Regions from separate parts of the Homo sapiens genome. Here region 1 is linked to region 2. The links come from fine-mapping of genetic effects on gene expression. Tissue or cell type: aorta. Region 2 holds a variant in brackets; the other region holds the start of a gene. All regions are shown on one strand. Distances are from middle to middle. Region 1 holds the start of GAS6-AS1 (GAS6 antisense RNA 1). Region 2 overlaps GAS6 (growth arrest specific 6).

Evidence for each region. PIP is the estimated chance that this variant, and not a neighbour inherited with it, causes the effect.
Region 1: GAS6-AS1 starts here. The variant in region 2 is fine-mapped to the expression of GAS6-AS1 in aorta (GTEx, PIP above 0.99). The same link has a PIP of 0.9 or more in sigmoid colon, subcutaneous fat, thyroid, tibial artery, tibial nerve and transverse colon.

What each region holds. Positions count from the first base shown.
Region 1 is chr13:113,814,196-113,816,911 of GRCh38, forward strand. It overlaps GAS6-AS1 (GAS6 antisense RNA 1), which reads left to right and starts at 1,415. Exons shown (of 5, transcript NR_044995.2): 1 at 1,415-1,496. It overlaps TMEM255B (transmembrane protein 255B), which reads left to right. Exons shown (of 9, transcript NM_182614.4): 9 at 1-2,716. RefSeq lists enhancers at 1,299-1,368, 1,419-1,658, 1,719-1,838.
Region 2 is chr13:113,839,516-113,842,524 of GRCh38, forward strand. It overlaps GAS6 (growth arrest specific 6), which reads right to left. Exons shown (of 15, transcript NM_000820.4): 5 at 213-335. GAS6-AS1 (GAS6 antisense RNA 1) reads left to right here. Exons shown (of 5, transcript NR_044995.2): 5 at 2,854-3,009. Among named protein-coding and RNA genes, the nearest start is that of GAS6, 23 kb to the right of the region's middle. RefSeq lists an enhancer at 1-492. The variant A/C (reference allele first, on the strand shown) is at 1,637.

The sequences.
Region 1 (2,716 bases), 25 kb before region 2:
AGGGGTGCGAACAGCAGAGAAGCTGAACTGCAGGTCTGGGCAGGGAGTCTATGCCCCCTGGAGCTCTGGCCAGCAAAGTCACAGGAATAACCCTCCTTCCCCTCATGTCAGCCCTCGGTCGCAGGGTGCGGTGTGGGGGCATCAGAGTGCTTCCCCGAGGCTGCACTCACCAGCTTCCCCCAAACACAACATCGATCTTTCCCGACTTTTAATCTTGTCTAGAGTCAAAAGCTGTTCAAAAATATTCAACTCCAAGGTCAACAGTTTTGTTCTTGCCACAAAAATGTCCTTATCCTTTATCCCAGCCACAAAGAATGTGAACAATTTGACTCAAGGTTCGTGGTGGCTGGAGGGTCCCCCAGGTCCCAGGGCAGCTCCCACCTGGCGCAGGGCTCCGGCCAATGCCTGGCCTGCAGTGTGGGCGGCGGCTGCTCTCGAGGTGCACCTGTCTCATGTGGACGGATCCTGTCTGGGGCCACCAAGCTCTGCCAGCCTGAGTCACGGTCTGATGAACCCCCTCTCTGGGCTCCGCTGGGGCCTTCTGATCCCAGCCTCCTCTGCAGGGATGGGCTCCCAATCCCGCCCTCACTTGGTTCCCATGCACAGCCGAGGTCAGTGAGACCCTGGAGGCCGCGGGAGATGGGGTGGAGGGGATGGTGGGGCAGGGGGTGCTGGGGGGTTTGGGGGTGCTGTGGCCCCGGGGCAGGGGGTGCTGGGGGGTTTGGGGTGCTGTGGCCCCACCTGCACTCCCTGCCTCACTGGGACAGCACAGGAGACAGGCTTCTCCTGCAGCTCAGAGGTGGGGGCCTAGTGTAGCTGCAGGTTGTGACTGAGGAGGGCAGGGTCAGAGCATTGCCCTGGGCAGGGGTCCGTTGAGACTGGCCCCACCTTATTAGCTTGGGACCTTGGGTTACAGGGAGTCTCCTCCTGCCTCAGTTTCTACATTTCACACAGCAGCACTGCTCACAAGAGCTCCCAAGCAGAGGCAACTACTGAGTGGGGGAGGGACACAGTCCGTCCACATGGGGCCAACGGCCACAAAGAGAGGAAGGGACATGGGTGACGGTCCGTCCACGTGGGGTCACCGGCCACGGAGAGAGGAAGGGACATGGGTGACGGTCCGTCCACGTGGGGTCACCGGCCACGGAGAGAGGAAGGGACATGGGTGACGGTCCGTCCACATGGGGTCACCGGCCACGGAGAGAGGAAGGGACATGGGTGATATGGTTTTGCTGTGTCCCCACCCAAATCTCAACTTGAATTGTATTTCCCAGAATTCCTGCGCGTTGTGGGAGGGACCCAGCGGGAGGTAATTGAATCATGGTGGCTGGTCTTTCCCGTGCTATTCTCGTGATAGTGAGTAAGTCTCACGAGATCTGACTGGTTGATCAGGATTTCCGCTTTTGCTTCTTCCTCATTTTCTCTTGCTCCTGCCGTGTAAGAAGTGCCTTTTGCCTCCCACCGTGATTCTGAGGCCTCCCCAACCATGTGCAATTGTAAGTCCCGTTAAACCTCTTTTTTTCCCAGTCTCGGGTATGTCCTTATTAGCAGTGTGAAAACAGAATACTACAGTGGTCCATCCACACGCGGGTCTCACCCAGCCACAGAGAGGGAGAGGACGTGGCCCATCCACACGCGGGTCACCCGGCCACGGAGAGGAAGGAAGCTCTAACGGGTGCTGAGGCTGTAACACACAGTGCTCAGGGAAGGACACCAGACATGAAGACTGTGTTCTGTTTATATGCAGTGTCCAGAGAAGGCGTGTCCACAGACAGAAGCCGACTGGGAAAGGAGGTGCAGTCACTGCTCAGGGACACGGGTTCTTTTCGGGGAGGCAAGCGTGTTCGCAGCGTGTTCTGTATGGGGAGAGATGCAGTCACTGCTCAGGGACACGGGTTCTTTTCGGGGAGGCAAGCGTGTTTGCAGCGTGTTCTGGATGGGGAGAGGTGCAGTTACTGGTCAGGGACACGAGTTCTTTTCGGGGAGGCAAGCGTGTTTGCAGCGTGTTCTGGATGGGGAGAGGTGCAGTCACTGGTCAGGGATACGAGTTCTTTTCGGGGAGGCAAGTGTGTTCTAAGCGTGTTCTGGATGGGGAGAGGTGCAGTCACTGGTCAGGGACACGAGTTCTTGTGGGAAGAGGAGTGTCCGGGAGCCAGATGGCAGTGATGGGTGGACGGCCCCGTGGATGGACTGACCACCGACCCATGCTCTGCACTCATGAGGCGTGGCTATTGCTGTGTGAATCACATCTCCATGGAAACGGGAGTGGGAGAAACGGGCCCCAAGGATGTTGTGAAGATGGCCTTATGGGGCTGCACTGGTGACTTGGACAGTGCTGGCCACCGGCCCTGCTCAGTGAACAAGAGCCATGGTCATCACCCTCGCCACACAGAGCAGCTCCTCCTGCAGACTTGGGGACCCCGTGGCCACCAGACCCCGCGGTGGGAGCAGAGATGCCTCCGAAACTCTGGAGACCCACAGAGGCAGAAGAGGATTCCACGAGGCCGGGGCCCGTCAGCAGATCCTCAGACGGCGACACGCGCCACTTCCTTTTCTGTTTCCTAGACCTTTTAACTGATGGAATTCAGTAAGCAGAAAACGTGCTTGAAACAAGGGCACCATGGAGCGGACCCTCCCCCTCTCCCCTCGTGGAGTCCTTGACCCTGGGGCAGGTGACCCTTCTTGCTTTGCAGGCAGGGGCTGTGGCTGGAGCTTC
Region 2 (3,009 bases):
GTTTCCTTTCCTTCCAGCCCTGCTCCCAGAAAGGAGACTGCAGCTCCTCCCAATTCTCCTGGGGCTCCAGGATACCTCAGGGCTGCAGCCTCCTTGGGGCTGTCGGAGAGCAGCCTGAGGATGGCCGTGCCCCGGAGTGGGAGTGAGGAGCGGGGATCAGGGCAGGGTCGGAGATGGAGGGAGACCCCGCCTTTGTCTTCAGCCTCACGTACCTTTGTCGCAGAGCCGGCCCCCCCAGCCAGCTTTACACAGGCAGAAGAAGTTGCCCATGAGGTCCTGGCAGGCTTGGGTCCCCTTCCTATCGCAGGGGTTGGGCGTGCACTGGTCAGGCAGGTCTGATTGGGGACACAAAGTGGAAAATCATGTTCAGCTGCCCCACCCCTGCGCGCCCAACGCAGCTGAGATCGGGGCGGCTGTGGGGTCTCGGGTCCAGCCCGGAGGAGCTCTGAGGGGCGCAGGCTGAGGCAGCCCCTGGGCACCCGAGCCCTCTGTGCTGGCCTAGGGCTGACAGAATAGGCTGGCGGGCCCTGGGGCCGGCTCCAGGAAAACTCAGATCAACTGGGAGGGAGTGCCAGCAGGCCTGGACGCAAGGTGGGAAGGGCTGAGGGCAAAGGAGCAGGAACTGCCTGGCGTGAGGCCTGGGAGCTCAGACCTCCCAGGGAGTAGGCACACAGAACCCCCAGCTGACCTGGGGGCTTCCAGGCAGACTCGGAACATTCTGCCTTCCCTGGCCAGCCCCTAGCCCATCTCTGGTGAACTCTCCCTGCTGGGTGTGGCGGGGAGGACCCCAGGCCCAGGCTGCACTGCCAGAGGGGTCCTCCAGGAAGCCCCCCTCTTTCTGCTTAGCTGCCCCCTCTCCACGTGTCTTGATGGCTTTAGGCCAGGTGTGTTCTGCCCTTTCTCAGGGTGGTCACCTGGGCTCAGCTCCTGCAGGGCCAGAGGTCAGGGGAACGGGTGAGGGCCTGAGGGTGGGAACCCGTGCCAGTGCAGCTGCTTCCCAAGCAGTCCCCCATCCGAGAAGCTGCTCACAAACACATTCATACGAGGAGCTGCTCACAAACACGCTTCCAGGACACGGACCCAAACCACGTCCCAGAGGCAGGCAGGGAAGCCCCCGACAGTGCAGTTACGCAAGCCTGAGCCCCGGGAAGTTGGCAGAAAGAACGACAATTACACCCGGAGCTCAAAGAATCCTTTCATGGCTGCTGGCAGAGCAGAAGCAGCTCGGGGCTGAGCATGGCAGTGCTCAGGGGCGCGGTCCACACTCAGCTCAGCCCCACATGAGGACTCAGCCACGCTCAGCTTAGCCACACAGGGCTCCGTGGGGAACCCTGGGTAGGGCCCCCCTGCTGGCTGAGAGAGGGCTCCGGTCCATTGATTCCACACAAGTTCAATAAGGACCAGTCCCTGGGAAAAGTGCAGGCCGGGCCAGCAGGGCCCTAGGGCACTGGGCCAGCATCGTCCTAAGGGGTCAGCCCTGGTGGGGGCACGTCGAGTCTTCAGTGCATGGGCTCTCACTGCCAGCGTGTCGCTTCTGTTCCTGAGGCTCCCAAGGTGACGTTTCCCACCAGGTCTGTAGAATGTGGCGTTTCCACCAGAGGGTCTGGGCTCGGCTGTCAGTGCAGGAGCCGCTTCC[A/C]TCCCCACCTGGCCGGGGTCAGGGGTGCCCGGTGCCAGGGTGAGCGGCGGGCGGGTCTGTGGTTCACAAAGCTGAGTTCCTCCAGCTCATCCAGGGCTTACAGTCACTGCCTGTGGCCGGCACAGACACAGCCCCTGTCCTCCTAGGCGGGTCCAGGCACCGCGCTCACCAGAGGCCCTGGCTACGAGTCCCAGGCTTCTTGGGGAAGCTGCCCAACCACACTGGCTTCTTTCTGCGACGCTTCGCCGTATGCCTCACAGCGTTTCCTCCGTATGCCTCACAGTTTGCTCCGTACACCCGCGTTTCCTCCGTATGCCCCAGTTTCCTCCATATGCCTCAATTTCCTCCATACGCCCCACAGTTTCCTCCGTATGCCCCAGTTTCCTCCATACGCCCCGGTTTCCTCCATACACCCCACAGTTTCCTCCATACGCCCCACAGTTTCCTCCATATGCCCAGTTTCCTCCATACACCCCACAGTTTCCTCCATATGCCTCAATTTCCTCCATACGCCCCCCAGTTTCTTCCATACACCCCACAGTTTCCTCCATATGCCCAGTTTCCTCCATACACCCCACAGTTTCCTCCATATGCCCAGTTTCCTCCATACGCCCCCCAGTTTCCTCCATACGCCCCACAGTTTCCTCCATACGCCCCACAGTTTCCTCCATACGCCCCACAGTTTCTTCCATACGCCCCACAGTTTCCTCCATATGCCCAGTTTCCTCCATACACCCCACAGTTTCCTCCATATGCCTCAATTTCCTCCATACGCCCCCCAGTTTCTTCCATACACCCCACAGTTTCCTCCATACGCCTCAATTTTCTCTGTACGCCCCACAGTTTCCTCCATATGCCTCAGTTTCCTCCATACGCCCCAGTTTCCTCCATACGCCTCAATTTCCTTTGTACGCCCCAGTTTCCTCCATACGCCCCAGTTTCCTCCATACGCCCCAGTTTCCTCCATACGCCTCAATTTCCTCTGTATGCTTCAGTTTCCTCCATACACCTCAGTTTCCTCCGTCTGCCTCACAGTTTCCTCTATAAGCCTCAGTTTCCTCAGTACACCCCACAGTTTCCTCCCTACACCTCCGTTTGCTTGTTTTGCACAAATGACTGACAACAGAACACTTGTGGGTGTGGACGGAGCTCGCGTCTCGAAGTGTTTCTAAGATGCTATTTTCAGCAGGTCACTATAAACGCTTTCTACTCTGAAGCACACAGGGGCTGGGGCTGGCCTTCGGAGTTACGAGGAAACGAGGACCAGGACCAGGGATTCTGCATCAGCACAGCCGCCAGGAGCCGGCCGGGGCCCCATCCCTGACACTGCTGTCGCCCGGCTGTACCTGGGTGCTGTGTCCGCGGGGCGTCTG